4 separate regions of the Homo sapiens genome follow, and regions 1, 2 and 3 are each linked to region 4. Evidence: fine-mapped expression QTL. A gene starts in region 4. Each other region holds a variant in brackets. All regions are shown on one strand. Distances are from middle to middle. Region 1 overlaps PXYLP1 (2-phosphoxylose phosphatase 1). Region 2 overlaps PXYLP1 (2-phosphoxylose phosphatase 1). Region 3 overlaps PXYLP1 (2-phosphoxylose phosphatase 1). Region 4 holds the start of PXYLP1 (2-phosphoxylose phosphatase 1).

Region 1 (5,712 bases), 55 kb before region 4:
AATAGAAATAAAAATGACCATTAAAAGAGAATGAGGAAACAGGAGCAGACAGTATTACAAAAATGATTTCTAGAGTAACACTAATTTAGAAACGATGATGATGATAGATGAATTGAGAAGAAAGATCTGAATGAATGATTAGGTGTGTGAGGGCCAACCCCCCAGCCTCTTCTCAGGTAGCAGCTCCTGGATCCAGAGACTGGCGCCCTCACCTCCTGTTCTCTGCACAGTCACCCTGACCTGTTAGCCAGGGCTGATGGATGCTAACCCCTAGGACCTCAAGGATTCTCCCTCTCTCAAGAATTTGGATTTGCAAGTTCATCTGTGTGTGTGGCTGGGACTGTAATTTTGTTGACAGACACAACAAAAAATTAGAGAGAGAGGCAGGGACAAGACAGCTTTTTTATTCCTGGTTCCAGTCTCTAGAGGTCTGGTCACACTCTTGATCTTAGAGTCTGTGAGTCATTCCTGAATTCTTATAATAAATTTCCTTTTTTTGCTTGAGGTGTTTTCTGTTATTTTTAACCAGAGAATCTAAGCAGCAGTTCTCAGCAAGAGTGCTACTGCCTTCAGAGAGGGCTTGGGGGTGGAGTTATCACAATAGTATGGGGAAAGGCATTCCTGGCACCTAGTGGGTAGGGGCTGGGGGGCTGGTCTCCAGAAGGGACACGTGTCTCTGTCCCACACAACTTTTGAATGCAGCATGAGACATTCCATCACGTGCAAAACATATTTGAATACTTTAGACTGTAGAATCTAATTCTGTTTTTGTGTCTAGAACACAAAACCATTTTTGTATAATATTAATGTTCACTGAATTTTCCAGAAATACAATATAAACTAAGGAACATCTATATTTTGTTTTGATCAGAACTTCAGAAAAACCATGTCCTGACATGTGGTATTAAGAGTCAACAATACAGCATCCATCAATCATCTGCATTTGTAGTTGTCAGAGTCACATTTAGGTACAAGCATTTGAAGATTTCATTCTATTTTCTAGTGTAGCTGTTCTTAAGCATTTATACAGAGACACATATAATTAGGTAGTAAATTAGTTTCTTTTCATTTGTTATCGCTGGGGACCCTGGTATAACTTTTAAGTAATTAACTGCATAGAAAGATTACATTCATTCATTCATTCATTCATTGAGACAGGGCCTCACTTTGTCACTCAGGCTGGAGTGCAGTGGCATGATCATGGTTCACTGCAGCCTTGACCTCCCGGGCTCAAGTGGTCCTCCCGCCTCAGCCACCTGAGTAGCTGGGACTACAGGCACATGCCACCACACTTGGCTAATTTTAAAAAATTGTTTGTAGAGATGGGGTTCCACTATGTTGCTCAGACTGCTCTCGAACCCTCAGGCTCAAACGATTATCCTGCCTCAGCCTCCCAAAGTGCTGGGATTACAGGCATGAGGCACCATGCCTGGCTGGTTACATTATATTTAAATTTCACTTCATGATAGTTGAGGGAGATTGCAAAATAGTTAATTGTGTAATCAAAGGGGGTGTTGGATCTGCTAGGATGAAAACCCTCGTTCTAAAGTAATGCATGTGGAACTAATTGCCAAAGGCTTTTGACACAACTCCTTATCCACGGCTAGTCCTCCAGAGGCTTCAGCTTGTTCCACTCTGTCTATCCAATATCATTTCCCCAATAATAATGGCAAAACCTAAGAGGGCCTACTATAGGATGGAGACCTTCCCTCCATCCCTGCTGAAGTCCTAAGATGCTGATGCAAGATGAAGACAGAACATGGCCAATGGGTCTTCCCAATTCACCCATAAAGGCTGGTGACCAGGCAAAGGTCCTCTGAGGTTCCAGATTGAAGAATCAGAAAACTGAAACCTCTTGAAGGACCACCTGTTCCTCTATTCCCAGCAAAGGTGACTCCACAGTTAACTCACCAACCTACCCTGATGGTGAACTGACTGCACATGGTCTGACTAGGGCTGCGGAGGGAAAGCTGTGCTTCTGTGAGAACTCAGCTCAGCCAAACAAACTCCACATGCAGTAGAAATGTGCCATGCATTTTCCTCCCTGAGATCTTGTACATGAAAACCTATTAGAAGTTTTGTTAGAAATATCTGAGAACATGAGATTAGTTAAATAAATGATCAATTGCCCATCCAGAGTGAAAGAATATGGCGCTATCATAAATGATGTAGTGGATAAACAGTTATTCATAGGGAAATATTAACAAAATGTGTTGTTGAGTGGAAAAGTGGGTTATGAAATAGTGTGTTTAGTAAGATGTGTGTGTGTGCATAAGCACAGGAAGAAGGGTTACTCTTAAGGGTCTATTTCTGTGGTGGAATTACGGTTGCTTAAACTTTTTCTTCTTTTTACTTGTCTTTCCTAAATTATTTTCATGAACACGTATTGTTTTTGTAAGAAGGAGAAAGGTTCTATTTAGTTTTGAGAACTCTGATGTTTATTTAGAGGCCCTGGTGACCGAGCTCCTTGCAGAGCCAGTCCTTGCTTACCCCCTCTGAGCTGCACAGCACCCCGCCCAGGAGAACTGCTCGGAAGGTATGCAAGCAGAAGAGCGGGTGGGGGAACCCCTGAGCGCATGGGGGTCACACATACCTGTCTGTGTGAGCTCTCCCATCTCACACAATGGGTGATTTGGGTAAAGAGGCAAGGAGTTCAAGGGGCTTTCGAAAGAGGCTCCGGATCCTTTTGACATGTGACTAATGAAAGCTTCCAGTTTTGGGTGATACGGTTTCCTAGAGAGATGATAGAGAGAGTTAGAGGTCAGAGTGCTCCACAAGAATCCAAACAGTTTCCAGCTTCAGCGAGCCAAATCCCACGTGTATCGCAGCCTTTTGCACCCACAGTAACAGGTACCGGCTCAATCACTTTTCAGTTCCAATTTCATTATTTCTCGACCACTGACACTGACACATGAAATCCCCTCTGTGAGGTTGGCCAGAGTTCCTAACCTCTGCTGAACTCAGTACTGTGGGATTCAGCTTCGCCGTCTATCTTCCGGCTCCCCAACCTGTGCTGCCTTCCGGGCTCGCTCTCCGGGAGGCCGCCAACACCCACCCAGCAGTCACGCCTAGGCTGGGCATCGTCCCACTCTCTCCATTCCCTGCCCCTGCACATGCTGTCTGCTCCCCATGTCTTGCAGATTCTTTCTCCTGGTGCTTCTCCATCCCCTTCTCCTTCATCCTCACAGCTACTACCTAGGTTCTGGCCTCAGGCAGCTTTTGTCTGGCTGGCAATGGGCTCTTTATTGGTCTTCTTGCTGATTAAGCATGCCCCTCTAATAATCTTGCCTTCTCCACCACCAGAAGGATTGATTTAAAAGGTAACTCTGACCAGTCACTGCCCTTCCCTATCACCACCTTCTGGAAGGGGCCACA[CACAG/G]CCTGTCCCTCTATTCTGGCCTCGCCCTGGTACTCACTGGCCCTCTCTACCCTAATACTGTGCTCTGGCCACGCCAAGCCAAAGGCCTTCTTTCCTCCAACACACAACGCACCTCATTCTTCAACACTTCCACCACTTCCCACGAGCTATCCCTTCCTCCTAGAAAATCTACCCTATCCTTTATCAAGGTCACCCATAATCCTTAATTTTTCTGACCTCTGAAAAATCCCCCTTTAGGAAAATTGTTAACTGAATAAGATAACCAGGATCTCTATACCTCTTTACAATCCACTCCACGTTTTGGACATACAACCTCTCATTTAATATAGGGTAATAATAAATGTCAAAAAAAGTTTATATATGAGATCTGAGAGTATCTATATTTCTGCCACAAAGTATATGTGGTAAATCTTTCTAGTCACTAATATACAATTACCCTGAATAATGAAATGACCTATGAATATAAACATCTTTTCTTTGAATAATGAAGTAGCCTATGAATGTATATACATTTTCCAGCTGAAGAGAAGTGGACAGATAGAGTAGTTCATGCCTAAACTCTATAAGAATCAGCATGAAAAGAAGCAAAGATAAACTGTTCTAATGGCAAACCCCTGCTGTCTGAAGGCCCAGTTAACTTTGAAAGTGCTTTAAAAATGGCTGCCAAAATGGGTTTATTATCTATCAACAACATAAAGCTAAAAAAAAAATCCATCTTTTAAAAATACGTTTTTAAATTAGAGAATACTAATCCAGACATGTAATATAGTCTAATAAATCACCCTGGATAGCTAAAGGGAGTTATGCCTTTCCACAAAAACAGGGTACGTTATTTTGCCTGAGGCTAAAGCACATAAATGTTTGCAAACTGGGAAATAAAATGTCCAGACTGACAATGAGGCTGCCAAGAGTAATCCACATAAACAAAGGCTATCCATCAACAGGAGTCAAATGTTCTGCACCAGGCCATTATTTCAGGTTGGAGCTTTTTTTGAGGATCTGAGAAAGCTTTGCTGCCAATTTTAGAAATGGAATTTCATGACTGGAAGTGTTTGCTGAGGTGACCCAGGTTTTCAGGGCATCTGACTGCTTAATGATATCTAACTGCATTCATTCCAATGTTTTTTATTTTTGTTTTTTTTTGTTGTTGTTGTTGTGTTGTTTGTTTTTGGCATGCAAAGATGAAGATTTGTGGAAGAAAAACTTCATTTAAAGAATAGCTAACAGGCCGGGCATGGTGGCTCATGCCTGTAATCCCAGCATTTTGGGAGGCCGAGGTGGGAGGACTGCTTGGGGCCAGGAGTTTGAGACTGGCCAACATAGTGAGACCATGTCTCTACAAAAAATACAAAAACTAGCCAGGCATGGTGGCGCAGGCCTATAGTCTCAGCCACTCAGGAGGCTAAAGCAGGAGGATCACATGAGTCCAGGAGGTCGAGGCTGCAGTGAGCTGTGATTGTACTACTGTACTCTAGCCTGGGTGACAAAGAGATACCCTGTCTCAAAAAAAAAAAAAAAAAAAAGAAAAAGAAAAAGAAAAAAAACATTTGACAACAAATGGCTGTATCTTTTTAGTGGAAAGCAGACCAGGTAACTCGAGTCCTGGACCTGGATCTGACTACCCAGGCCTTGTCTGCCTGGTCCACTGCTCCATCCCTGGAGCCCAGAGGGTGCTTAGCACATAGCAGATGCTCTAAAAATATATGTGAGTGAATTCAACTGTGAAGTGTCCCATCCTTGGATGTTTCATGAAAATAGCAAGCCTTCCATAATCTGTAGAAATGAATACGATAAGTTCCCATACGGTTTGTTAAAATATTCAGATTTTGATGAAAATATAGTCGGCCCTCCATCTCTTCAGATTCTGCATTGGAAGATTCAACTGTGGATCCAAAAATACTTGGAAAAAACCCAATAAGAAATAACAATACAACAATAAAAATAATACAAATAACAACTATTTACACAGCATTTACATTGTGTTTGGCGTTATAAGTAATCTAGAGATGATGTAAAGTACATGGGAGAATGTGCGCAGGTTCTGTGTAAATACAACACCATTTTACATAAGGGACTTGAGCATCTCAGATTCTGGTATCCAAGGAGGATCCTGGAACCAATCCTCTATGGATGACTGTATTAAAACTAAAGGCTAGTGTGGATGAGACTAGTGTACTAGTCGTACACTAAAATCTATTCTCTTCTTAAGAACTTGGTTAGATCCTATTTCTGAGGTCCTGAAATGAGGTAAAGCCGCATTCGCCAACAGAACGGAAAGATGTATGCCACTTCTGGGTTCAGGCTTTCTGATCATGTGTATGCCCGGTTCACAT
Region 2 (5,712 bases), 29 kb before region 4:
GGATTTGATCCAGGCAGTCTGACTCCAGAGCCCACGTTCTTTCTGACCCCACTGTGCTGCTGCCTCTTACCTGTCCCAGCACACAGCACCTGGTATTCCAGGGTGTCGGCTTGTGATTCTTCTCCACTGGACAAAGAGCTCCCTGGGGCCCATGAGGGATTAAACTCTCAGCCCGGGGCCTAACACACAGTGGAAACTAAAGAACATTTGCTAAAGAACAAAGTGTCACATACTCATGGCACTGGATCAATGAGAAAAGATAAAATTCATAAAACCTAGAGTTTAAAGAGACTTTAAATGGGATCAGACTCAATGACCTGTCCAATACTTTACTCTTCAAAGAGCAGCCCTCCAGAGTTTGCAGACTCCAGTGACGGAGAACACACCATCCATTCCACCTCTGCATGGCACTGACTTTTAGGAAGTTCTACCATATGCTTAACTGAAATGTGTCTCCATGTTCACCTCCTCTTGCAGAAAGGGCCCTTCAGATATTGACAGCAACCCTCACTCTCATTTTTGCAGGTTAGCCCTCCTCTTTTCCTCTTTTCCCACTGGGAATCTGAATCTCCAGTTCACCTTCAGCATTTCCTTCGACTCTGCTCTGGCCAATCGGGGCCCTGACCAAGAGGGAAACCCCAGATATGGGTGCCATGTGCTCAGTATAAATTAACCCCATCATGGCCAACGCACTCTGATTAAAAACAAATGCATGCGTGATCTATTTCAAAAGCTTTCCCCACCAAGTGGCTGAAGTAACATAAACTCTGGCAACTTCTGGAACACCAGGAGCCCTGGTTTCTGATGATGGTGCACTATGACGGAACTCTGCGCTGGTTTGCTTAAAAGGTTTATGTTGGCTATGCTTCCATGAGCCAAGGGTTTTCCCGTATCTCCGTTCTCACAGCAACCTTGCAAAACAGCAATAATTAACTCTATTTTACAGAAGAAGGAATAGGACACACAGCCACTTAGCAGGGAAGCTGACATTCAAATTATGATTCTAGAGCCTGCGTGCTCCTGTCACAACACCATTTTGGGAATGGTGGTCAGAACATGGAGAAATGAGCATAAAATCAGCATTAAGAAAATGCAAGGGCCAAGGAGGGAAGTGAATGATTACAAATGAGCACAAAAAGTGGAAACATAACTCATGATTCCTAAGTCTTCACATCCTGACAGTCTTTCCTTGCTGCACTAAAGGAGTCCTTTAATTTGAAGTTATTTTTCCACTTGTATGTATTTTAACTACAATAACCAAAAATATCTATGCCTTGCCTGTTCCCTTCTACAATTCAAACATCAGGAATTTCAGAATGTTTCACCTTCCAAACACAAAACATTAAAGACTTGAAAACATAGACTTATTTTTATTAAAGACAATTAGCATATAGCAAGTCATTAGCACCATTTAAGATGAACATATTTTGAGAAACTGTGAACAGTATCTTAATCTTTTCTGTATTTCCTTACTACCTCCACTTCCACAGTGTAGAAAAACGTCAAACACACATAAGCACTTAATAAATATATGTAGGTTCACTACATACTTTCTGTATCCAGAGGAAGACATACTTATTTAAGCAATCTGATTTTTGAATCGTAACCTGGGCTATTTCTTCTTCACATTCAAAACATCAGGAAAAGAAAACTACCAATAAGACCAAATAAGATATACGATCATTTCAGATAACAAAGCTATATTCTTTACTTAAAGCATGAGAAAACCGAGTTATACTTAGTTGCCTCAAATATGTTACTTAAAGTAATTATATATGCTAATTTGGTATTCAAAAATAAGTAAAAAGAAATGGTAAAGAAAAAAGTCCATATATTTTAGGATAAGAATGAGAACATAAGTGGTATATAAGCGAAACCTGTGCGTTATGAATTAGTGCTGTTTCTTACAGTATAATAATAAGCAACCAATAAAGCAATTAAATAAATGGAGCAATTAAACTCACTTCTACAGAAATGGGGAAATTCCAAAGTTACAGTTTACCTAAAAGAAGAGCAGTAAGAACGTCCATATCTTAATATCTTTCCGATCTCCAACGTATCCAAGAATAAAGAGCTCAGACCCAGACAGGCTAATTTACCCTGCAAAATTTTCCTTAAAAAAGTATGGCTGAAAATTGGCTTTCCTAAAACAGAAGGTACTTTCAGAAGAGTTATATAAGCAAAACACACAGGCCAATTCAGTGACGTGGAAACCAGCTCATGCAAGAGAAATGCCACAAACACAAGTAACACACATTCATGTCTCAGAACCTGTCAGCCTCTCAAAATAAAATCAGGGTTGACTGTAACATCCTACCTCTCCAACCAAAGGATGGAAAATTTTTAATGAAAATTTATAAACAATTAAACTACTGAATATCTTACCACACTTTTTGGAAAGGATTCAGATTTTACAATTCATTTGCCATCTGGAATATTTTTAAACTTCTGATGCCCACCTTCTTTTGACCTCTTTTCCAATTCTGGAAGGATAAAACGAGTATTTTAAATTCTTTTTACTATTAGAAATAGGCTGTCATATGCATGTACATGGAAATATGTCACAATTGGAAGTGAATCAGAGAAACTTCCTCAAAGTCTCCTCTCTTGAAACC[A/C]CCTCCTCCTAGAGCCAAGCCTTCCCCATGTTCCTCTGTGTACTCATAACATCCCACTTACCGAGCCACCTGCCCTTCTTTCCATCATTCAAACTGCAACAGAAATGCCCCTCCTCACACAGCTGTCCTGGGTGGTGTGGGTGCCAACTGCTTGTCTCCCACCCATCAGGATGAGGTGGTTAAACGGAGAGAAGGCAGGTGACAGCAACAACACAATTCCTGGCATCACACAGATGTTTTCTCAGCTTCAAATACACAGCAACAGAAGGAAAGAAAATAAGGTTCCATCTGCTTTTTAGAGCAGGCATGGATTCATGCATTCAGCAGACATTTACAAAATATTACTACGTGCTAGGCAGTGCTGGTTCCTGGGATACAGAGAGAAACAGGATGTGGTCCTGCTCTCAACGAGCAGACAATCTGGTAGAAGGAAAAGACACAAGAACTGAAAATTATACTAGTGCATGGTTAGTGAAAGGAGGGGGCCGGGCGTGGTGGCTCACGCCTGTAATACCAGAACTTAGGGAGGCTGATGTTCTTACTGCTCTTCTTCTTCTAGGTAAACTGTGACTTTGGAATTTCCCCATTTCTGTAGAAATGGAGTTTAATTGCTCCATTTATTTAATTGCTTTATTGGTTGCTTATTATTGTGCTGAAAAAAATGGCACTAATCCATAATGCACAGGTTTATGCTTATGTAACACCTATGTTCTCACTTGAGGTCAGGAGTTTGAGACCAGTCTGGGCAACATGGTGAAACCCTGCCCTGTCGCTATAAAAATACAAAAAATTAGCTAGGTGTGGTGGTGCACGCCTCCAGTCCTAGCTATCCAGGAAGCTGAGGTGGGAAGATTACCTAAACTCCTAAACTCGGATGTTGAGTCTGCAATGAGCTGTGATCGTGCTACTGCACTCCAGCCTGGGCAACAGACTAAGACCCTATTTCAAGAAAAAAACGGGGGAAGGAAGGAAGGGAAGGAGGGAGGGAGACAGGTTCAAGGATTCAGGGCATCCTGATGTATATAAAAGAAGCACCAAACCCTTAAGTATTCCTGGAAGGGTCCTAGAGGAGAAGGGGCAAGGGCTGAAAGGGAAACAATGAGAGGGGGTGAGGAGGAGAACGCTCTTGGCAAAGGAGCACCAGGATCTGAGCACAGAAGCAGCAGAGAGGGGCCACAGGAGGGCAAGGGGCCTCTCAGAAGACCATGGGCCACCACTGAGGTGTTGCCACTAAGGAGGTCCTGGGGCCAGATCTGTGTCTGAGAACAGCCACTCTTAGGTGAGCTGTAGTGTGCACAGATTTGGGGCCTGGCCTGAGCCTAGGAATCTCAGTGGAGGATGCTGCATGGTGAGGCCCATGGCCTGGCTTTATCAGAGTCCTCCTGTCTCGTCACAGGGGATTTCCCATGCAGCCCCTGCTGCCTGGGGGGTGGGTTTGATACTGGTGACCTAATCTCCCCACCCTCCCCGAAACAACTCCAGCCCCGCGGCTGACTGAAGGCTAAACAGACACCCAACTTGCAAGGACCCAATCAAAGGGCTAAACACCTCTGCTCTGTGTGGTTCAGCATAAGAAGTCAAGCAGGGCCACTCAGTGTCTCCATCTGGTGAATCTGAACAAAAAATCTGGGAATAACCAGGCAGTTCAGGAATTCATGCAAAAGTCAAAAGAGCACACAGAACACTGCTCGGTGGTTTAGGATCCCTCCTTGCAACCGGCCACTGTGAGTGCCAACAATAAAAAGACTTCGTTGTCTTCAGCCTCATCATTCATTTATAAAACAAGCCTTTGGGGCCTCCTTGTTTCCTATGAAGCCCCTACCCTCCCACGACCTGCGGGGCCCGGCTCTACTCACAGAACTGCAGGCTGAGGCTCACAAAGGCCAGCAGCGCAGCCAGGGCCAGCAGCAGCAAGAAGCGGTTGCGGAAAAGCATTATTAAGTATTCTATTTTCTCTTCATGGTTTCACCTCAAATCGGGAACATGTCCTGTGAATAAAGCAGAGGTGATAAATGAGTGTTTAGAGGTGGAGAACTAAATTTGTCAACTGAAAATAACCAAACTTGTCAACTGATAATAATCTGATTAGCCCAGTCCCCCGGCAGGGAAGCATGCATCTCTAGCTGGAGAACAACAGCATGCTCTATGATTAGTCTTTGCCCCCAAATAAGCCCAAGCGAGAATGCTCCCTTCAAGTTAGTAAGCAAAAACTAGTTCCTGAATGCCTTATCTGACATCAACAAGGAATGAGATATTTTACAGACATGACCTTCCCAAGGAAAAACGCAAAGGATGTTTATTGGGTATTTACAATGTGCTGGACAATAAGGGAAATCTTCACACGGACTCATCTTGCTGTGACCTTTAACCTTTAAATCTTCAAGGTTTTTTGGTGGACATTCTGCTGAAATGATCTTGGTATTCTTTAATTGTAATTGTTAATCTGAACAACAATCATCACAACATGTCCCCCAATGCCTTGGGGGATGGTCTGGGTGTGCAAAAGGATTTGCTCCTACACCGACTAGCTCCATCTGCTAATTGAGACCTCCCTTCATCCTGGACCACTAAGCCTGTTTCAGCTGTATCCATGGGTCTTCTGGAAGCCTCGTCCTGCCTATTCAAAATTCCCCTAACCACATTGGAAGTGTGCAAGAGGACTTTTTAAAAAAGCTGAATAAGGTCCTAAATGTCCCTTCTGTGGGAAAAAAAAAAAAAATGAATGACTACTATAACTTCTACCCTATCAGTTTTAGAAGTCAAGTTTATTTCCTGGTTCTCTTTGGGATTTTAAAGAGAACTTGCAAACCATAGTCTCTTTAGAAAAGGTTCTTAAACTACAGTTAGATTGTAACGGTAATTTCAAACTTGAATCTTTTCCCCATTCAAATATAATCTTCTTCAGAGATCAGACAGACAAAATCAGATAAAAGCTCATCTGCTAATGTGTGAGGGCTGTGTAACTGTGAATATAACTGAATATAGCCATTGAGCTGTACACCTGGGGTGAATCCTATCTCAATAAGCTGTACTACGAAAAGCACATCTTTTGGGAATGAAGCAGGAGCCAGACTCCCAGAGCCCCTTGCCTACCACC
Region 3 (5,712 bases), 41 kb before region 4:
CGTAACAATGGGGAGGCACTGAGAGATGGCCCTTAGGCAATTTTGTCATAGTGTAAACATCATAGAGTGCACTTACACAAACCTAGATGGTAGAGCTTTCTACACACCTAGGCTATTTGGTCAGCCTGCCGCTCCTAGGCTACAAACCTGAACTGCATGTTACCGCACTGAATGTTGTAAGCAGTTGTAACACAATGGTAAGTACTTGTGTATCTAAACATATCTCGACTTAGAAAGAATACAGTAAAAATATGGTATTATAATATGGCACCACTGTCATATATGTGTTCTGTCGTTGATGGAAGTCATTATGTGGTACATGACTGCATATGTATTTATAGTAAGCACATATTAATGTATTCTATATGTATAGAAATATATATTTCTGTATTTCTATGCTGTCTAGGTAAGCATTTTTTTTTTTTTTACAGTGAACGTATTTCCCTTCATTACTTGTGTTACCAAAACAACAATCACAGAGATACAGAACTGGTGATTCACCCACCCAACATTAGCCCTTTGGTTGCTCCTAGGGCCACTTTCTTTCCAGTAGTTGGAAGGTGCTAGGATGGCTAACACAGCCCAGGTGTTCAGAGGGAATTCACTACAGGGGGATTAGCACAAGAGCACGGAAATATAGAAAAGTGCTAAGGCAGTCTCTTAGTGACCTGGCCCTTCTGGCTGGCTCAGTCCTTGATTCTGCTCTTTTGTGAAATCTACCAAGTCCTGGCCCCTTGGCCATGCCTGTGGGCACACTCCCTTGGAGTCTGGGCCAGGGACAGAAGCAGCTAAGGAGACAGGATAATATGAGTGACACAGAAATGGAGGGGCACAGGTGAGGACAGTGGGTGTCCTAGAGTGCCCACAGTTTGCTAGTTCATCTATAAGCACCCGGGGTGAGGCCTGTTGTGGCTGCCATTTGGGAACCATGGTGGTTGGGTGCAAATGACCCACCCATGACCCAAGGAAGCAGTGGTTTGAAAACCACAGATAAAGATCAGAATGAGACCTTCTCTCCAGAAAGATTTTATCTGCTGCTTCCTCTGGTATCTGGGCCTGTCAACTGTGTCTACTAGTTCAGAGTGTGAGATCACCCTGTACTATTTGTACCTCCCTGAGTCACCAGGACATAGCATCAGTTCACAAGGGGCCTTCCCAATACCAGGCATTCAAAACAGGTCCTGACACATAGAAGCTGTGAGGAGAAGTCTCCCCAGCTCCATCTTGACCCCAATCCCAACTTGGTTCTCACTGTTCTGAGCTGCTCTGAGCCATCCCACCCCACAGGATGTTTCTCGCCTATGCTCCACCGTTTGCTGGCAACTCTACTCTCACCCTCTGCTCCCGAAATCTGACCAACACTGTAACTGATCCTAGGGTCACCTCCTCCAGGAAGCCCGCCCTGAATCCCCAGTTCCCACATCCTCTTCTATGAGCCTACCCAGTTCCTGCTGCCGTCATGGCTCACAGCATAGTATATGCAAGCAGGGGTGTCCCAGTTTGTCACCCTGCCATCCCAAACATCCAGAGGGCTGGGAGTGTGCGTCTTTCACATTTATATCCCCCGCTGACTGACAGAGGATAGGTCTTCCAAAAATACCTGCTGAACTGGGGCAGACGCTGTGCTCCATGCTTTTGATGAAATATCTCATTGACTCCTCATGTGGAGCACTGAGGGTTGCCGAACCAGTCTGGGGTGAGGGGCATCCAAACAGGCTTCCCAGAGGAGACACCTAGCTGGGCCTGAAAAACTGATGAAGCTGGCTGTGTGGAGGGGAAGAGGAGAGGAGCAGAGGGGAGGCCGTGAAACACAGCCAAACATGGCAGATGGGGGTCAGCAAGCTGGCTCAGGATACGCCTTGGGTCCCGTAAGGCCTGGTCAGGTTGGCCTCACCAGGGTCGATGTGCAGGCCGGGCTCCAGGAGGAAGGCTGGGAAGGGGCCTGGAGGAGCAGACCCCGGGCTGCAGGCCGCCTCTGCCCTGGTGCTGTGCTACTCACCACATCAGCTCTTGAGGCTTGCCCCGATCACCTAGATAAAGGGAGCTGAGGGACAGACCCAGGGGCTGGGGGCAGACACTGCTCCAGGACACTGCTCCTCCCAGCAGGCTTTGCCCAGGCCCCCCGTGCCTCTAGCTGTCCTGTGGAACAATTAGAAACTCTGCTGACCTCAGGCAGATGACAGCAGCTCAGATGTCACAGGGCAAGAGAAAGAGGCTGTGGGGGCATCAGAAAGAATAGTGGGCAGATAAATAGATGGAAGGATAACGAGTTTCATTATGTAGGTGGGAAAACCCATGAATCTAAATGAGTG[T/C]CCTGGGGCCACTGTGCCACCAGGACCAACACGAATAACAGGATACGAGATATCTTTTACTGATGATTAACTCTGTACCAACGGGCATGCAATTTCTCTGTGGTGTGATTACCAAGTAGGAGGGCAAATTTCCGTAAGCTACCTTTGGAAATAAGCCTCTCTTTTATGGCGGTGTTCTCTGCTCATCTCATCTACGATCACTTTCATCCTGTCCACACATCTATAACCCTCATGTGTAAAGATGCCGACAAGGTCTCAATTTCAAAGAAATGGCAGAGAACATGACCTCTAAAGCATCTCCTTGGGACCCTCCCTCTCAAAAGCAACCAACAAATTTCTTAGAATCATGAGTAAAACAACCAGATGCTATCCCACGCAGGCTCCCTCCCCACCACCCTTCCCCACCCCATCTCCCGAATGCACAGTGGATGACTCTGTATGTATTACTAGTAAACATTCCCATAGCTATAGCTAGGATGCAAGCCAAACTGATCCTCTCTCTGCTTTTCCCAGCTTTGGATCTCAACCTAGGAAGAGTAACCATCAGCCAGACAGTAGACCTTAGGCAGAGGCAGGTCAAGGGAGTTACCTAAGGTCCTGAAGCCTGTAAGCCCGGACCTGCTCACCCACTAAGCTCGGTATTTATGCATTTGTCCATCTGGCCATCCAACATGTATGGAGCACATGCTGGGGATTCTTCAGAGAATAAAATGGACAAGGTCTCTGCCCTCACGGGGTTTACAATCCAGTTGCGGGGGACAGTCAGACATTAAATAAGAAAAGGTGGGGAGAAAGCACATGGACCATAAGGAGAAAATAGCCTTCTCAGGCACGGGGCCCCCTGCACTCACTGGTTGCTGGTTGGGGGGTGCAGGTATGGAAACGATGCAGTGAAGACATGGATATAAAGGAAATATTGGGAAGTTACCAGATGTGATGGTTAATACTGGGTGTCCACTTGATTGGGTTGAAGAACACAAAGTATTGCTCCTTGGTGTGTCTATGAGTGTGCTGCCAAAGGAGATTTACATTTGAGTCAGTGGGCTGGGAAAGGCAGACCCACCCTCAATCTGGGTGGGCACAATCTAATAAGCTGCCAATGCAGCTGGAATATAAGCAGGCAGAAAAAATATGAATAGACAGGCTGGCCTAGCCTCCCAACCTACATCTTTCTCCCATGCTGGATGCGCCCTGCCCTTGAACATCGGATCCAAGTTCCTCAGTTTTGGAACTTGGACTGGCTTTCCTTGCTCCCCAGCCTGCCGACAGCCTATTGTGGGACCTTGTGATCATGTGAGTTAATACTTAATAAACTCCCCTTTATAAATATATATATACGTATATATTCCATTAGTTCTGTCCCTCTAGAGAGCCCAGGAGTGGTCAATAACAGCTTTAAGCAAAACACGACTTAATCAACTAGACTTGGGTTAGTAGCGAACACTAGAAACTTGTTTAGAGAGACATGTTTCATCTAATGATGATTTGCTCATTTTGATTTTTTGTTTATTCCATTGATGGTCCCCATGGAATAGAAAATAAGGAGGGAAAAGGCCAGGGTCAGAGTCAGATCATAACAGCACAGGTTGCTAGGCCACAAACCCCTGTCTAGCCTTTGAACCTCAGGGCACCTTAGTTATCCCTGAAACTCAACAACCATAGGGGCAGCAGATAAAGTTATAACCGAGTATCTGCTGCCACCTCATTATCTGGGAGTTACTCTGACTTGCACAAGGACACACCAGTTTCTTTCCCCTAGGGTGTCAAGCCAACCTCCCTGATATCCAGGTCACCTCCCTATACCAAGGCCCTGGGATAGGGCCAAGGACAGAAATCTACCTGCATATGTGGCCTTCTTCTTGCCTTAGGAAACTGCTGTATGCAAGCTCCTTGCAGGTGCCTTGAAACTGACTTTAATGGAGCACAATGAAGGGCCCCAACCCTGGGTCAGCTCATCTCTCCCCACTTCCTTCTGTGGCGACAGACCCATCCTCCTTTGGGAGCAGCTCCTCTTCTCATGCCAACCCCATGGCCCGGTGGGGGCTGTCATGCTGCTCCTCCAGGACCATGTCTCCGCCTTGCTAACTAGCCCAGGGATGAGGACCTGACTCTAGGCAGCTGTGCTAATAAAGGGACCTTTCCAGGAAAGACAGGCTGTCCCATGTGGAAGACACTTCTGCAGTGGGAGTCAGATGGCTTCCAAACCCCTCCCTCCTGCCATCCCCATGCTTGTGTGATTTGGCTGTCAGCCTTCTTCTGATTACACAGATACCTGGCAGATTACAGTTGGGTATCAGGGACCCAGAGTTTCCCGGGAAATGTGAGCATGATGAGGCTAAAGTGTTGGCTCAGCTCTGTCTCCATTGCTCTGGGATCAGCTGCCACACAAGTCACCCCACTGACTACACCAGCAAAGAACCTCTTGGGGCCAAGGTCCAGCTCCACTATCTGTTTACCTTCCTAGCTCCAGGGTCTGCCTTGCCCTTTTTGGGACTTCAACACTGGGCTAGTCACTTCCTTAGGGGACTACAGTCACTTTTTCCTTGGAACTCCACTGACATCTGTCCTCAGTTGCCCCTGCTACCATGGTTCTGAATGCAGGGAGGTAGCCTGGGGCTGGGGGCTGCAAATGAGCTATAGTATTACAAAGATGTGAATTCATGTCCTGGCTCTGTTACCTCCTAGCTGTGTGACCTGGGGCAAGTATCCCTGCCTCTCTGTGCCTCATTTCCTTCATCTGTCAAATGAAGGTGATGATACCTACAGATCAGGGTGGTAATGATGATGTTGAGATACCACCTGTGAATGGATTCTGGTAAGGAATCAAGAAATACTATTTTCAATGTTTAAAAAGTGAGCAGGATATGGTGGCACATGCCTAGAGTTCCAGCTACTCAGGGGACTGAGGCAGGAGGATCGCTTGAGCTCAGGAGTTCGGGGCTGCAGTGAGCCCTGATCACACTACTGCATTCCAGCCTGGGTGACAGAGTGAGACTCCATCTTATAAATGAATGAATGAATGAATGCTATTTTCTACATCCATCCCCTGGATGTGATTATTCCTGTTTCCTGCAGGCTCTTAAAAGGCGCTCCCTTCAACTTGGGATCTGGAAGGGATATCAAACCCCTGCGTCCACCCCTTCACAAAAGCACAACCAGCCAATCTCCCTTCTCCTCTTGGCCACTCCAATTTTAGCAGCTTTTCTGGCTCCCTTAAATACATTCAGCTTATCTGAGATAGCGTCTCCTCATAAGCTAAAACACCCCCAGTCCTGCCACCTAATTTCTCCAATTTCTCCCCGCAAATAAACCAAAAGGTTCTTGAATTCTCTCTCCTTCACTGGTCTGCCAAGGAATAATGACGCGCTCTGTCAGTTCCCACAATTCCCTTAGTGCTCCT
Region 4 (5,712 bases):
GGGCACACACCTCATTCAAAAACTTCAAACAGCTCAGTGCTCTCCTGCCGTGCTAAGCCCAAGTCTCAGCTGGCTTTCAAGGCCTTCTCAAAACCAGAATGATGGGCCCAGCAAATGGATTTCAGATTCCCATGGGGTCATTTTTCCTATCTCAGTGACTTTGCTCCTAACTGGTAACCCCTACACTGGAATGTGGGCACACTTCCTTATCCACCAACCAGGAACCTTGTCCAGGGACAGGTTCTGGGGCCAAAATCTCCCCCTATGAATTTTCAGGACCTTGAACATTCTCCTATCCTTTCTCCCACCCACCTCTAGATAGTAGTATGTCTCTTTCTCCCTCTCCTCCCTTTCTCTTACTCACAGACTGCAGGCATTAATTAAACCTCTTCTAGAAAACAGATTTTCACCAGCTGCAGGAATTCTGAGCCAGACCTGAAGACAGAGACAATCTGGGTAAGAAAGATAAGTTCGTGACAGCCAGGGGCAGTGCAGGCTCCCACAGCCAAGTGGCAGTCTCAATTTTAGCCCTTTCCAGATTCCCCCACAAAAAAAGGGGGACATGAGGTGTTCCCACCCCCTCAGCATTTGGCTGTACTGCCTGGGGGTGGCCTTTGACAGAGGCACAAGAGCTGGACCTTGCCCCATCTGCCAGTGGGTTATAGCCACCTCCAAGAGACCAAAGCACTGGCCCAAAACACCAACCTCCCTCCCACCAATAGAGCTGCAAGCCACAGTGCCAGAAATGTGCAAGAAGAGGCACTCCCAGCTCGCCACAGGAAGCAACACCCACTGGAGTGGGGATGGTGCAATCTGAAGTGGCCAGTGGGGCTCTGCAAGTGGTACCCTGTCTCCCTGGGAGCTTCCTCCGTCAGTGGGCAGGGATAGGAAATGTTAAAGGGGACTGGGGCTACAGCTCTGGGCACTATAGGTTAAGCTATGGTGGACTCAACCCTCAGCAGACAAACTTAGTAGCTTCCAAGGGCGCCCACCACCACCTACCCCAATTCTTGAATGAAGACAACTGATTTTCTTCATGGAAATCTTGGAGTCCCCACTGAGGTTAACGACCCACCATCAGAGACTGATCCGTAGATTGCACTCACTGCTCCAAACACACACAAAAATGAGTTTGTCTCTGGTGATATGACACATTAAAAAAAAAAAACTGTTGAATTTAAGGGTAACATTTTGAACAGTGTAGCAAAGTGTAGAAAACATTGGTTGTGAACTCAGACTAATTCACCGGGGCATCCATTTTTTTTCCTCACAAACACTGAGTACCCCTATGTGGTAGACAGGGGGGACCAGGCAGGGACCTGGGGCCACAGAGGTGGTTCCTTCCACCCATCCCTGAAGATGCTCCTGCACAGTGGGGCATCTGACAGCGACTCATCACAGAGCGGTGTAGGGAGGGCCAAGGAGAAGCCCACGGGAATTTCTGGACAGAGAGACCCTACTGAGCCCCAGTATGTCCTTGGGCTACTTATCTAATCAATAGTGAAGTAATATTGAGCTAACTATTCAAGCTGATCAATAGAAAAAAGAGTTACAGATACTGCAGTTCCACAAACACTCGGAGTGCTGTGCTCCAAAGGCCAGGTGGCCCACGCTGTTCCTGGTGCCCAAACGCAGCCTCCCAAGGCATCAGTGAGGATGGGCTGGCCAGGAGCCAATCCCTAACAGAGAAGTTCCCCCTACACATCCTTTCTCTGAGATAAGCAATTAATTTAATCCAAGACTTAATGAAAGCCAGGAGAAGGGATGGGGCAGATTCATACACTGGCTTTCAGGCTGTCCCGTGCATCTTCACCTCTCTCCAGGGACCACGAGGGTTTTTTTTTTTTTTTTTTTTTTGACAGGGTTTTGCTCTTATTGCCCAAGCTGGAGTGCAATGGCGCAATCTCAGCTCACTGCAACCTCTGCCTCCCAGGTGCAAGCGATTCTCCTGTCTCAGCCTCCTGAGTAGCTGGGATTACAGGTATGCACCACCACGCCTGGCTAATTTTGTATTTTTAGTAGAGACGGGGTTTTTATGTTGGTCAGGCTAGTCTCGAACTCCCGACCTCTGGTGATCCGCCCGCCTCGGCCTCCCAAAGTGCTGGGATTACAGGCGTGAGCCACCGCGCCCGAGGCCTTTTGATCCATCTGCTATAAATCCCCTTCCCACAGATGTCCCGATTGGGCACCAACACCTCTGAGGAGGGTAAGTTACTGCCAAGCCCGACCGCAGTCGCATCCCGTTTGAAAGGGTGGGCTCCGCACTGCCAGCTTCACACCCACGGGCCTTCTGCAAATATCAACAAACGGCTCCATTTGTGGAGCACTCTCCGATCCCCCATCCACCCCCCTACACTTCCCCATTCACAGCTCGATCTGATTCCCCATCTCTCCTGATTTTACTTGTTGAATGCTTACAAAGGATCCTTGCCTTTCCACAAAGACACTGGCTAGCCAGGCGGTGATAACCTCACTCACTACAGAGCCCCCTCGCAATCGCTGAACTCACAGCCGAAGCGGGAAAATATGGCTCCACGTCCTGCACCGTGAATCCTTTACCATCCACAGGTACAATTTAAAAGGCAGCTGCGGCTGCAAAGCAGGCAACCTACCCTAAGCAAATCCATTCTCTCTCTCTCTGTGTGTGTGTGTGTGACAAACCCAGCTTATTTAAAAGATCAGGACATAGGCAAGTTCACCAGCAAAAGCAACGTCGTGGGTCTACACCACACGGTCCTAACCTGCGCATCCAGGAATGTTAACCTGCGCTCGGGCGGCCCCGTGGCCAGGCCCGGGACTCCCGGAGGCGTCAGGCTGCAGGTGGCTGCCAAGAGGAGCCAGCCCCGTCTCCGGGAAAGGCCGCGAAGTTGCGGCCGCCTCCTTACCTGGAGACTAGCCGGCTCAGGACCGCCCGGGAAGGGGGATCCCGGGAGCTTGAATCTCGGCTGGAATCCAGCGGCGGGAGTGCGGGGGCCGTGCGGGAGAGGGCTGGAAGGGCGGGGGCGAGGTGGAGGCGGGCTCCGCGGGAGAGTGCGGGGCTGCGGGGGGCGAGGGCTTGGAGACAGAGCCGGGGGTTCGCAGCGGGCGTGAGACGGCGCCAGCTCTGGGAGAAGGGGGCTATGGGGCGGGCGCCGGGGCTGGGACACCGGGCGCACGGGGGGAGTGGCAGGAAAGAGGGCGCAAGTCCTAGGCTCAGGGGCGAGCGCGGGGATAAAGGAGGAGGCTTAGTCGCGGGATTCGGACCCGACGCTTCGAAGCGCCCCCAGCCTTCCCGCCCCTCTCCCACTGGCGAGTTAGGGGGACCCCCTCAGTCTCCCAACCTCGGACCCTGGACGCCCACCCGCCTAGAACCTCTGCGCTGCTCGGCCCCAACGGCAACCGCCCCGGCCCAGGCCCGCGCCGCACTCACCGCCCATGGTCCCAGGCCGGCCCCAGCTCCGTCGCTGCGCGCCCGGCTCGGCGCTCGCCGCCAGCTCCTCCCGGCGCGAGGGGAGGCGAGGGCGGCGCGCACCCGCCACCGGGGAGCTCGCGGGGCCCGGCAGCGCCCCCTGCCGACCCCGCCGCGCCCCGTCTCAGTTCGGCCGGCCCTGCACCAGGAGCCCTGGAGCTCCGCCCCGGAGGCGGTGTTGCGGTGCGGCTGGGCGGGGGCGACCGCGCGGGGTTGCTGAGAGGACACTGCCTCTGGGAGGCCCAGCACAGCCCGGAGAGACTGGTCAGTCTGCAGAGCCCTCGGCGTGCAAAGCCACGGGCACGGACAAGCCGAGCGCGCAGGGACCACGACCACAGACGCGCAGGGCTCTCGCGTGCCTCACAACTCCTGACCTGCGATCAGGGACTGCGCGGAGGCGCGCCAAGGCCCAGGAACACAGCCCTGGCCGGCCCGGGCCCTAGTGTGGGTGCTTTGGGGCCATGTGCCTGCCCTGGCGCCGCTGATGCTATCGCCGGGTGGGCGCGCGCGTCTGGGGTGCGCCTGCTGCCACGTAGACCCAAACTGTCACCCCCCACCCCCCACCCCTTTCGGCCTATCCCACACTCCTCTTCCGGCTCAGAACACATCCGGCCTTGTGTTGCTCTAGTCCTCGCTGCTGCTCCGTCTCCAACGGTCTGCAGAGACCCGGGGAGGTCGTGGCCCCGCGCAGTCGCCCTTCCCACCTGCTCCCGGCCCGCGGCTTCCTTGGAGCCGCTGCTGAAGATCCTCAGAGCACTTGAGGGCTGCCTGTAACGCCCCGTTAGACATCTGATAGGCGAACGGTTGTATTTGGTTTGATCAGTATTTGTGGGTCATTTATTGCAAATGTTAGGTTCCAGCTGGTGGAGATTTCCACCAGATTTCTCTGTGGGAGATGAAACGACCAACAGCGATTATCAGAGAGGTCTTTGCTGTCAGCTCGAGGTCTACAGCAACCCTGTGTGTCCTAGCACAACTAGCCTCAGGCAAAATAGATACGGATTCGAATTTGCTACTATATACCTTTGAGGTGCACCTTTGGGAGGATCTCATCCCTTGACTTCTGCTTTCTCTCCTTGATTGATGGCTCTCAAATCCACACACTTGGCTCAGATATGTTAGCCATATTTCCCCCTACCCTCCGGTTTTTTTCTTAGAACTTTCCTCCTCAAGTTACCACGTCTGGCACTAAATTTTACCTCTTCCAAGCTCCCAACTCCATTTATCCCCGTGGTCTCGCCATTCTCTCAGCCACCTGTCATGCCTTCTTCATCAGGTGCCTTAATGGCTCGTCAGTACCGGACTTTGCTGCCTGTCCGCCTCTGGTATTCCCCCGATGCAGCGCTATCCCGGGCCTTTTTTCTGCCCTGAATACTGACAGCCTCTCCCAATCCATGAGCACAAAATCTTTTCACTGTCCCCTTTGGCATCACCCCCAACTCTCCCACCTGGCCCCCACAGAAGCCCACCGCAGCCCGCCCAACAATGTCTCCTCTGCCCCTTCTGATTGTCCTCTCACGGATTGCAGGCTCTACTGCTTAGCTCACACTGTCACCCTCTTCTCTACATGGGTTAGTCAAGGTGCTTTCTGCTGTAAAAGACAACCCAATTCACACTAACTTAAATCACAAAGGGTTGATCCGCTGTGTACATGAAGAGCCTGTCTGCTTCAGGCCTGGCTTTAGTCCCAGGGTCTCAGGGACTCCCCGTCTCAGTTTTGCTGTCTTCCACATGAACTACGCTTTCATGCGCACATGAGACCCTGGCAGATCCAGGCTCACAGCCTCACAGCTCTAGTTCTAGCAGAAAATCAGCTTCTCTGCCAGCCATTGCAACTAGCCTTGGACCTGGCTTTGTTTGCAGGATTGGGCCACATGTCCATGCTGTGCTCTCAGCCTCTGTGACTCCATGGCAGGTGGGTTCACTCGTGGACACACTATCACCCTCAGCAGGGAGCATGTAGGCACTCTTGGATCCCTTCTCTGTCACAAGGGGACTAAAGGTAACTCAGGGCACCATCTCTAGCCATTTCTCTGCAAAATTTGCCACACCAGCGCTTTGCTTGACAGCGCAGGGCATACTGTGGGGGCAGAGTCTCAGCCTGGAGATAGGACACAGGCCCTTTCTGCTTTCAGCTTCCTCCTTAACCTATCTGAGATCTGTGTCTTTGTACCACCCCCTTCCCTAGGTCCACACTTGGTATAGGGATAGCCTCAGGCCCTCATGGAATCAGGCATCATACACTCCCTAGACTCACATCCTGT

Evidence for each region. PIP is the estimated chance that this variant, and not a neighbour inherited with it, causes the effect.
Region 1: its variant is fine-mapped to the expression of PXYLP1 in whole blood (TOPMed, PIP above 0.99).
Region 2: its variant is fine-mapped to the expression of PXYLP1 in whole blood (INTERVAL, PIP 0.99).
Region 3: its variant is fine-mapped to the expression of PXYLP1 in tibial artery (GTEx, PIP 0.90).

The regions. Positions count from the first base shown.
Region 1 is chr3:141,284,335-141,290,046 of GRCh38, reverse strand. PXYLP1 (2-phosphoxylose phosphatase 1) reads right to left here. Exons shown (of 6, transcript NM_001037172.3): 5 at 2,594-2,733. Among named protein-coding and RNA genes, the nearest start is that of PXYLP1, 55 kb to the right of the region's middle. The variant CACAG/G (reference allele first, on the strand shown) is at 3,376.
Region 2 is chr3:141,259,014-141,264,725 of GRCh38, reverse strand. PXYLP1 (2-phosphoxylose phosphatase 1) reads right to left here. Exons shown (of 6, transcript NM_001037172.3): 2 at 4,472-4,603. The coding sequence starts at 4,550. Among named protein-coding and RNA genes, the nearest start is that of PXYLP1, 30 kb to the right of the region's middle. RefSeq lists an enhancer at 4,186-4,930. The variant A/C (reference allele first, on the strand shown) is at 2,616.
Region 3 is chr3:141,270,512-141,276,223 of GRCh38, reverse strand. All of the region lies in intron 2 of PXYLP1 (2-phosphoxylose phosphatase 1), which reads right to left. Among named protein-coding and RNA genes, the nearest start is that of PXYLP1, 42 kb to the right of the region's middle. RefSeq lists an enhancer at 2,229-2,398. The variant T/C (reference allele first, on the strand shown) is at 2,313.
Region 4 is chr3:141,229,609-141,235,320 of GRCh38, reverse strand. PXYLP1 (2-phosphoxylose phosphatase 1) reads right to left here and starts at 3,496. Exons shown (of 6, transcript NM_001037172.3): 1 at 3,410-3,496. RefSeq lists a silencer at 3,378-3,757.